Linked DNA regions of Homo sapiens: region 1 is linked to region 2. The links come from fine-mapping of genetic effects on gene expression. A gene starts in region 2. The other region holds a variant in brackets. All regions are shown on one strand. Distances are between the middles of the regions.

What was found.
Region 1: its variant is fine-mapped to the expression of TAPT1-AS1 in unexposed skin (GTEx, PIP 0.92).

Annotation. Positions count from the first base shown.
Region 1 is chr4:16,244,766-16,250,138 of GRCh38, reverse strand. All of the region lies in intron 2 of TAPT1-AS1 (TAPT1 antisense RNA 1), which reads right to left. Among named protein-coding and RNA genes, the nearest start is that of TAPT1-AS1, 21 kb to the right of the region's middle. The variant A/C (reference allele first, on the strand shown) is at 2,341.
Region 2 is chr4:16,223,587-16,228,959 of GRCh38, reverse strand. It overlaps TAPT1-AS1 (TAPT1 antisense RNA 1), which reads right to left and starts at 2,297. Exons shown (of 3, transcript NR_027697.1): 1 at 1,783-2,297. It overlaps TAPT1 (transmembrane anterior posterior transformation 1), which reads left to right and starts at 2,489. Exons shown (of 14, transcript NM_153365.3): 1 at 2,489-2,701. The coding sequence starts at 2,503. RefSeq lists an enhancer at 1,377-1,436 and silencers at 1,947-2,146, 2,207-2,276, 2,287-2,386, 2,397-2,446, 2,557-2,936.

The sequences.
Region 1 (5,373 bases), 21 kb before region 2:
AGTTCCATCTTCATAATTTTCATTTTAGAGACCAGCAGCTAAAAACAAGTAGACAGGAAGAGAATAATTGGCCACTTATTCTAATCCCTGCCATTTGTAATAATAATAAACAGCACAAATAGCAAACAAATTAATGACTGCTCCCCCTGAGCCAATCAATTACCAAGCTATGATCACTTTACCTCCTACTTCTTGAATCTTTTCCTTCACCACTGACTCATTCAAGCTGTCTTTTCCTCTTTCGTGGATCATGGCAATAGCTTCCCAGCCTCTATTCTTGTTTCTCTTAAAAATATCCTCCATATTGGTCACTAAAATGAGCTCTCTCATACAAAAACCAAGCCACTGCCTTGCTTAAAACCCATCAATGGCTCTGAAAGCATCATGGAATGTCTAACCTCCTTATTGCAACATGTAAACTTGATAGTTTCCTGACTCCTACCTGTAAATCTTCTGCACTCAGACTCATAGTGCACCAGACTGAGCTCTTTAACCTGGAGTTAATGCTGTTGTGTGGAGTTCAGATCACTGCCAGACTCTACTTCCCCTTGTGGTGAGTTGGCCTTTGGGACCTTACTGTCCTCTTCTCTCATGCACCTTGGTCAAGACCATCACAATCCACTGTGGCAGGGTTTCCTAATTTTAACATTTGGTAGTAGGAATTGGTGCCTCCCTTCCTTCTCTTTCAGAAGGGTTTTAGGATCCTTATTCAAATACATCCACTCCCTCCCCAAACCTCTGCAAACTGAGGAGAAGCCTTTGCTAAGACACAGGACTTTTTTTTTTTTTTACAGTTAATTGTATACCATTTTCCAAAGTCAAAATATGCCCCAATTCTTCACCTAAAGGATGCTGTTCCAACATGACTTTCTATGTTCACCTCTAAATAAAAAATTCCACCACGCCAGGTACACTGTTACACACATATAATTAGATGTGTATAAAATTCAACTCTCTATAAACACATACATATATCTTAAAGCTTTATATCTCAGCTTAGAAAATTAATTTTCTGACAACATCCTTTAATAATATTATTGCTGTTTTATAGAGGTCAATAGGACTAAGATCAGAGCCTTCTGTGACTTTAACCAGAACTCAAATGAATGAACCCTCTCAATTAACTGATTATTATTTCTTCTACACCAGACTTCTAAAAGAAAGAAAGAAAGAGGCTAATAAATACAGATGTGTCAGAGACCATTTTCAGGCTGTTGAAACAATGCCTTCATCTATAGACTTCATTCATAAATACACACACACAAATACCTACAGTTCTTAGGATCTATTGACATTCTGGAGGACAAAGTCTTCAAACTTGGCCCATTCAAGCCCTTTCACCATGTGCAACCCTACCTCTGGAAGATCTTACTCAGGCATGTAGAAAATGGTGACCGCAGAGATGGGAATTTCCATTGAAGAACAGATGGAACAAAACTTTAGGAGCAAAATGCTGGACCGTCTAACAGCAATAAAAATATCTACAGGCCCTACAGTCATACAATCAACTAGCAAGCTACAGATTTAAAGATCTTTAAAAAGATCTTTAAATATGTAAAAATATAAAAGTCAGTCCCACATATGTTTCCACGTATGTTTTCAACTCCTTCAGATTTCTGAGGTCATCCACTCTCAAAAGTCCAGGTTGAAGCAGACAAGAAACTACTTTAAAGACATTAGCAGCTCTAGAACCTCTGGAAGAGCCCAAGAATCACTGTTGAAAGCTATCTAGAGAGGTACTTGTAAATCAACTTATGCGAGGAGTTCCACCTATTTGGTTTGAGATTATTGGGAGAGATAAAGAAGGCTTTGGGTCCTTCTTCACATTACAGCACCTTTAAAAATAATAACAAGAAGAAGAAGAACCTTATAACCCAATGCTTAGTCCCTTTTTGCTTTACTCTCAGGCAACACAGAGCTCAATTCAGAACTCCTGGCAGTAGCTCCCCAATTAAAGGGTTGGACACATCCACTTCCCTTTTGGAATTACCTTGTTTAGATGGGTTAAATTTTAAAAGCCAAAATACAAATTCCAAATAAACAAATTAAATTAAATAGAAAGCATAATATCATCACAGTGAATTATTTCTAGACCAAGGTACAGACATAGTATGGCTACGGCTTATTAAATAGACTCTAGATTATCAAAAATCAAATGTCCAAGGCTTACTTTTGTCAGGCCCTCATGTCTTCTGAAGTCATCATCCCTTAAACATTCTACCAAGAGGGCCTGGGTCTCATACCATATATCTTGGAAAATTCTGTGGCTTCCTTCTCCCATCACAGACTCCCACATCCAGATACCACATGCACATACACTTGTCCCATCCCCATGTCAGC[A/C]TCTCGAAGGTACCTCAGTAAGATTGTGTTTTGAGCAGTCGGCATATCCTCAAATCTGTCTTCTTTCCCCACTTCTTGGCTCCAAGATGGTCGGTACGGTAGATGCCACTGGTGCTCCGTTCATCAGAGATTTGTCTCAACCAAAAAGGAGCTGCTTCATTCAGATCACACTTCCACCTCAACTCCTTCAGAGAAGACTGGGGCCAATGACTGACCGACATAAGGGTTTAAAGACCATACTCCTTACCCTAAGAGGAGTCCAACTCTGTCATGCAATTCATGCTCCAGAGGGCTCTCCATGGGATCTAGGCTAATTTGATCCCCAGCCAAAACAACATCCACACTTGGGCTTCTTTCCCACCCTGTTCTTCTCTCACTCCCCTTGTCCTGAGAGCACTCCCTCAATAAGTCACTTTTACAACAACCCCTGCCTCAGGCTCTACTTCCTGGGAACGCTTCCTGACACAGTTGGATTCAGTAGCTTTTTCCTGAAAGACAATAATAACTCAACATAGAACAGTAACAATTTAGATGTGAGTATCCATGCTACATTGCTAAAAGAAGGAGCATCAGAGTGAACAACTGCAGAGTCCACAGCTCTCTCCTCTATACAGGGTTTTGTAACCCAAGTGGAGAACATCATCTCTATTTTCATGTATCAGAGGCTTTTATTCTGTACTCTCTCTTGACTGCCTCCCAGGGAGGGAAGTGAGCACAAAAATAAGAAAGCAAATCCCTGGTGTAGAAACATTCTAGAGTTTGACACTTGTATTAAAAAGTTTCTGAAAGCTGGCCTGGCGCAGTGGCTCACATCTGTAATCCCAGCTCTTTGGGAGGCTGAGAAGGATGGATCACCTGAGGTCAGGAGTTCAAGACCAGCCTGGCCAATATGGTGAAACCCAGTCTCTACTAAAAATACAAAAATTAGCTGGGTGTGATGGTGCATGCCTGTAGTCCCGGCTACTCAAGAGGCTGAGGCAGGAGAATCACTTGAACCCGGGAAGCAGAGGTTGCAGTGAGCTGAGATCACGCCACTGTACTCCAGCCTGGGTGACAGAGCGAGACTCCATCTCAAAAAAACCAAAAAAACAAACAAACAAACAAACAAACAAACAAATGGTCTCTGAAAGCTGTTGGAAGAGACACATGGCATACAATCAGATAATTCAACTCATAGAGGCATGCTTCCCCAAACTCATTCCTCTCACTTTCTATCTCACCTACTCTTATCTACAAACTGAAAAATGTTTCCCTCAATTCCTTTAGAGATTGTGCTAAGAGCTGCCAGGAGGGTATTGTGATGCCATGAGGGAGGGTATAGGCAATGTGATCACAAGGAAGTCCGTGAGACCCGAGATGGGCAGGAAGGGCATAGCTTCCCCACCTACGAGGTGTGGATGCCATAAGGTTAATGTCCATTCGGGCTGCTACATGGTTCATTCTGGTGGGTGGGCTAAATTTGAGGGATATACAAATTGCCACAGGACTACAGAAAAAGAAACAACCAATACCACTTGGTGATGAGGCAGGGAAGGTCAGCAAAGTTTCCACTGAGTGCAGAATGTCTGATCTGTGCCTGAGAGGATAAGTAGATGGCCATGTAGAAAAGAAGAAAAAAGTCCCAGGCAAAGAGTCTGGACAGCACAGAGATGTGGATGCAGATGGCAGTGGTGGGACCAGGCAAGCACAGACTACCTGCTAGGGTGTGGCAGTATATAAGGCTGGGAAGACAGCCTGAAAGCCGCTTGAGAAGGTCCAGAGGATCATGGAAATTGTTCCAGCAGGAAGTGCTTTGTTCACATGTATTGTTAAGGCCAATCTGCACACTCTCTGGGGAATAGATTGGTGAGATGAGAAGGCAGCAAAACCAGTTAGTAGTCTTTTGAAATGATACCTAGTGCTTATTATATATTTATTACGTAGCCAGGCACTATCCCTAGCATTTTACACATTTTATCCTCACTCTGACTGCATGTGACAAATACTCTTTGGCATCTCAAATGACATGAGGAAACTGAGGCACAGAAGGTTAAGTAAGTTACCCAGAGAGTCAAAGCTAGTAAGTACAGGGCAATTAATTAAACCAAGGGGGATCTGGCTACTTTTCTGCCCCCCTAATGCTGAGGGACTATTCTAGGGCAGTAATGACTAAAATAGAAAACAGAGGACAAATGACATTTTGAGGGTGAATATAGGTAAGGCAAAGAGATAAATAAAAAGAACTGAGGTTTCCAGTTTCAGTGACCCAGGAGAAGGGAATTAGAATTAATAAGAGATAGAGCAGCAGCTTCAGGGTGAAAAGAATACCAAGGTTTGAGGCATGCTATGTTTGCAGAGATTGGGAGACATTCCGGTAAGTGTCTGAAATGTTTGTCTTACTCCCAGCCTTATCTTAAGATATCCTCTCCCACTGTGATGGTTAATACTGATTGTCAACTTGATTGGATTGAAGGATGCAAATTATTGATCCTGGTTGTGTCTGTGAGGGTGTTGCCAAAGGAGATTAACATTTGAGTCAATGTGCTGGGAAAGGCAGACCCACCCTTAACCTGGGTGGGCTCCATCTAATCAGCTGCCAGCATGGCTAGAATATAAAGCAGGAAAAAAATGTGAAAAGGCTAGACTGGCTTAACCTCCTGGCCTACATCTTTCTTTTCTGCTGGATGCTTCCTGCCCTTGAACATCAAACTCCAAGTTCTTCAGTGTTGGGACTCGGACTGGCTCTCCTTGCTCCTCAGCTTGTAGACAGCCTACTGTGGGACCTTTGTGATCGTGTTAGTTACTACTTAACAAGCTCCTATATATACCTCCTATTAGTTCTGTCCCTCTAAAGAACCCTGACTGATACGCCCATCTTCCATAACTTGGTATCATCACATATGCTCTCTCCTTTGTGCAATCAGAGTCTGTTCTTAAGGCAGTGTCCAGTATAGATGCCATTCACACATTAATGTCAGCAAATTCTCTCTTCCCAGGTGGGCCTGATATTAAATGAGAGCTTTACCTCTTGTTAACGAAATCAGTAAAAATTAA
Region 2 (5,373 bases):
TGCTTTTTTGTATGTTGACTTCAATATGGGTTTGTTTGAAATTGTGTAGTTTCACATGTCAGATATAATAAAGCAGCTTCAGTGAAAAGATTCAACCGACGAGAAGCTACAAGTTCCTCAACTTGCCCACATTCGCATTCCCACATTTCCAATTTGTTCCCCCGCTTCTTTAGGCAGTACCTAGCCTCGGCACGGCTGCTTCCTCTTCTTTTTTTTTTTTTTTTTGGCACGGCTGCTTCCTCTTCTTCTTTTCTTTTTTTTTTTTTTTTTTTTTTTTTTTTTTTTTTTTTTTTTTTTGGGACGGAGTCTCACTCTGTCGCCCGGGCTGGAGTCCAGCGACGCGATCTCGGTTCGGTTCACTGCAACCTCCGCCTCCCGGATTCAAGCCATTCTCCTGCCTCAGCCTCCCGAGTAGCTGGGAATACAGGCGCCCGCCATTACGCCCGGCTAATATTTGTATCTTTAGTAGACACGGGGTTTCACTATGTTGGCCAGGCTGGTCTGGAACTCCTGACCTCGTGATTCGCCCCCTTCGGCCTCCCAAACTGCTGGGATTACAGGCGTGAGCCACCGTGCCGGGCCCTCTCTCTTCTATTTAAAAGGATAGGCACAGCCTTTGGAACTGAATGTCTTTCCTCAGGCCTCATAATAGAAAATGAGGAAAGTCCATTCTGACAACTGGCTGCCTTAGGCAACAGAATTTGGGATTCCTACCCTTCCAGCTCCTGTTGAGTCAAAGGCAAAGGCAATAACCCAATAAATGTGGTGAGACAGTAAATGGAAACTGACATAAAAATAGCAATAAAAGCCTACTTCCTTCTTGACAATCAATACATAATGGAATGGGTATGATTTTACACCATAAAACATCAGAGAATAATAGAATATGGGCTGAAGAAAGCTCAGAAGCCACAACATTTTCCCCACCTTTTGATTTTCAAAACGATTCTTAAGATTTGTCGGGAGTATTTGTTTTCAATTGTTTCAGTGAGGCTCAGTTTTGACCACATGCAACCAAAATAGAGAATTTCATGGAGGATGGTCACAGGATTGGCTTAGAAAAATGTAATCCTGTGAGCTGTCCCCTTTCATAAATAATAAGGTTCCGACGGCTGCACCGAATGTTCCTCCTTTCAACGAGGTTGGGCCGAGGTTGGGCTCCCAGCTGCTGGGACATTTTTAGTCCATCTTGGACTCTCACCTCTGCCTCCTGCTCAGCTGTCAGAATGCCAGGCGGCTCTGCAGCCCAAAGCCCACTCCGTTTTAAACTTGCTCGTTTGCAATCACGTAACCCGCTACTGACGACAGAACCCTCAAGGCCCATTTATATGCGGTTCTCAAGTTTAGGTCTAGGGAAGTTTCCAGGAAGCTTAGTGTTCGGGGAGGAATTCGTTTTGCTTTTGCTAATCAAAGAGACACAAAAGCACAGCTGAGTCCCGAAGCTGGCACACGGGAAATCGAGGTACCACTGTCCCCTCACCGGAGCGCGCAACAATCACTTGGGGAGCGGGGAAAAGGTTTCCACCTTCCCCGAGCCTGGGGCACCTTCGCTCCCACCGCCCCAGCTGGTGGTGGTCTCGACACCACGCTCGTTGCGGGGTCACACGCCAGAGCTGGAAAGGGGAGGTCCAGCCCCAAGTAAAGCGACAAAGTAAGGACACAGTGGTGGCCAAGGGCTGTCTCCTAACCCCAGTCCCGAAAGACAGTGTGGAAAGTCCGCCGGCGCGCCAGCCCTTGAAACTCTGCCGGTCCGGCCGCGGCCCCTCCCCTGCGCGTCCCCACCTGTTGTGAAGCTGCCCAAGCTCCTTCTTGCCCAAATGCTTTGGAAACTGCCAAAGGACACTCAGAGGCCAGGGAATGTAACAGGCAAGCATAAATATGCAGAAGAGATGGAACCAAAATAGCGGGCAGGCAGGGCCGGCGCTCGTGGGGGTCGGTGATCTGGAGCCGGGCCCCCGCCGCCGCGGCCGCGCCAGCAGTGCCAAGACCTGGCGGGCGGCGCCGGCGCACTCCGGGCACCGAGTCTGCAAAAGAGGCCCTGAGCGGACCGCCGGACACCTCGCAGACTGCGGGCAGCGGTGGTGGCGGCCGCCTCTCCGGGGCTCCACGGCCGACCCGCCGCCCGCCGCCGCCATCCCCGGCCCGCTCCTGCCGGGTCCCCGACTCGAGCCCCGGAGGCGCCCGCTCTGCGGGACCGCGCAGCCCGGCTGCATGGAGCCCGGCGCGGTGCCCCGGCCGGCCGAGCCAGCCACGGCGCGAGAAACCGTCGCCCGCCACGGCGAGGGCAGGAAGAAGATGGCGGCTACCGTGGCGGCGGCGGCGGCGGCAGCGGCCTCACACGCGTCGCTGACGCCAATGGCTCGCGCCGGTCGGCGGGCCGCGGATGGCGGCGGCGGCGGCGGCGGCTCGGGCTCCGGCGAGGGGCGGGGCGAGGCGGGGAGGGGGCCGGCCGGAGGCAGAGGCTGGAGGGAGGCGGCGGGGACAGTTTGTTGTGCTCGGAACATGGCGGGCGTCGGCGACGCGGCCGCTCCGGGAGAAGGCGGCGGTGGCGGCGTGGACGGCCCGCAGCGGGACGGCCGCGGCGAGGCGGAGCAGCCGGGCGGCAGCGGCGGACAGGGGCCCCCGCCGGCGCCTCAGCTCACAGAGACGCTGGGCTTCTACGAGAGCGACCGGCGGCGGGAGAGGCGCCGGGGCCGCACAGGTGAGGCGGGCGGCGCTAGGCCGTGGCGGGCTCCGAGGGGCGGACTGGGGACCGAGGGCGGCGGGGGCGCCTTGGAACCCCGGCCCCCGAGCCGCGCGGCTGCCGTTGCCTCCCGGGGCTCCCCAGGCTGTGGGCGCGCGGAGCCGCCGAGGCTGCCGAGGCTCCGCGGCCGTTGACAGTTCCTCGGGCGGGTTGCGCGCGCAGCCCCGAGGCCCCCGCGGCCGCGCCAGGCCAGGTGTGCCCTAGAAGGGGTCTGCGGCCGGGAAAGTTCTGTCCGGGTCCTTGCATCGCCCTCGGAAGGTCTTAGGTTAGCGGGCATCTCCCACGTCTCGGAGCCCAAACGTGAGAAGCACACGGCTGATTTCTTAATTATATTCATGCCAAGGTGACTTTTTTTGTTCTGTATTTTAAGCAAACTTGAGCCATAGAAACCTGTTAACTTGCCCTGCAAGTAGATTTTTCACAGACAGCTGACGGTGTGGTAGTGACCATGAAGTTCAGTAGTTTTGCCCAGTACAGAAATATTTAACACTCCATAAAATGTTGCATCTGAACTTTTCCTGAACTGAAACTTATGCCAAAAAAATTACTAGATGAGAAAATGTGTACTTATGAATCCTACATTCAATGACCAGTTTTAAACGTATTGTTACAATGTTACAGTTTCTATAAGCTGTAGGTTTTTATTCTCATTTTAAAAGAATTTTTAAAACTTGCATTTGTATTCATATTGCAGTTACAGATTAGTTTTAAATGAAAAAAGGTTTTGAGATGGATGTCTTCTTGAATATAGAGTGAACCCAACGTTTTAATTCTCAAGCTGTAAACAGCAACTGAACCATAACTCCATTAAATTTCTTCCAACTAAAAAATTACTTCTGTTGTCCAAAAGGGGCTGTGTTAGCCGTTATTTCCTGAAGTTCATGCAAATAACTAAGTTGTGAGGCTGATTACATCATTGATTGTACTTGAGTACTGAAATTTTAAAACTACTTAAGGGGCATAAAGTTGATCAGATGCGATTCTAATTGATTTGCTGATTCCCAGAACTGGACGTAGGTTCTATTTGAAGCAGTCTATATTTTTGGAAAATTACAGACGGTCTTGTTTGGTCTTTTTCAATTAACCACTTAAAAATTCTCAACCATACTTTATTTGGTTTAGTTCTCAGTTAAACATTTGCTTTCAAGAGTATTTACTTTCTTCATTGGCAGGATCTCAGTAAGACAAAATAGCAAATCTCTCAACTGTCTGTTTACTTACTTAGACTTGAATATTAAAAGCACTCTGTTGTAAATAGAGATAGATGTAGCCAGGCTTCACTATACTTTCTTTAAAACATTTCTCAGTTGCAGGAAAGCCACCATTTTAAAAGCCTTTTTTTGTTGTTTGCGTGGAGAGGAAATGAAGTTGTTTGAAGCCTATTGATGAGCACAGATCTTGAGCTTGCAGTATCACTTAACACTTCTTCCCTGGCTTTTTCTGGGACTGGATACCTGGACTTCCATGGACTTCATTATACCACGTATCCATTCTTCACCAACATGGTTCACCATGTTTAAGGCTGGATTTTTTTTAACCCATAGTTGCAGGAAGTCATTATCAGGGAGATGCCTCCAGGTTTAGCTGTTGGGGTAGTCCTTGTTCTTTCCCCAGTTCCATTGATTTTGTGTGAGGAGATGTCAGTGGCCACTCCTGCTTTACCAAGTCACACTAGCCTTGGCGATCAGGATTTAGGTGAGAATTCCAAATTCCAGGAGTATTTCAGCTGGAGCCACTGGCCAGTGTTCTCTCTGAGCCTCCACATAAGCCCCTCCTTCTTTTCCCCTGGTGTCCCTGCTCTGCTAGTCACATAGCTCCTGCCACTGCTAGCACCCAGTCTGTAGCTCCGATAACCATATTTGTTAGAGGTTTCCCCACTAGAAACAATTATTTTAGTCCTTCTTCAATGCCCAGGCTGCTAAGTCTAGCGCTGCCCTCTTCCCCTGCTCTGTAATCCTTCCTTCCCCTCCTTTTAAGAATTTTTAAAAACGATTCCCTAGGAGCTGGCCTGGGTCAGAGGGCCTTTGAGTGGCAGCACCTGGAGTCATTTGGATAGCATTTCTCCCTGAATCAAACTAGTCCTCCACGGCTAGATGCTCGGACTTAAGGTATTACTTGTTGATTTTTTTATATTCTTGTGTGCCTCTGAGAGTCTAGCACCACTGCCCTTGAGATCTAGATCCCCCTGCAAGTTAAGGCAACCTTTGGCTTTTCTTTTTGAAAGTCATAATCTTAGTGTCTTGGTGGCTGAACCATCAGTCAGTTCCAAAGTTCCCTTTATCATTTCTCACAAGGAATTTAGGGCTCCTACAGGTAAGACATTTGTTGATCAGTCCCAACAGCCTAGAATTCCCTAAATGAATGTACATATTAGGTACTTATCCAAACTCTTTCCATCTGAATAAAATAAAACGTGGTGTCTGAGGTTCATTTTTTGTTTTATATCTCTCCTTGTTGATTTATATGTTTAGAAACTAGATATGTATATTTGTCTGTATGAATAGCTGTATATGCTCTATATTGTATTATACTAAACATGTGTCTCCATTAAGTCTAAGCTTTCTTTTCCTCATCACTTCGTTCTCAGAACTCCCGTTCTGACTTATATTTAGCCTGGCAATAGGCTGACG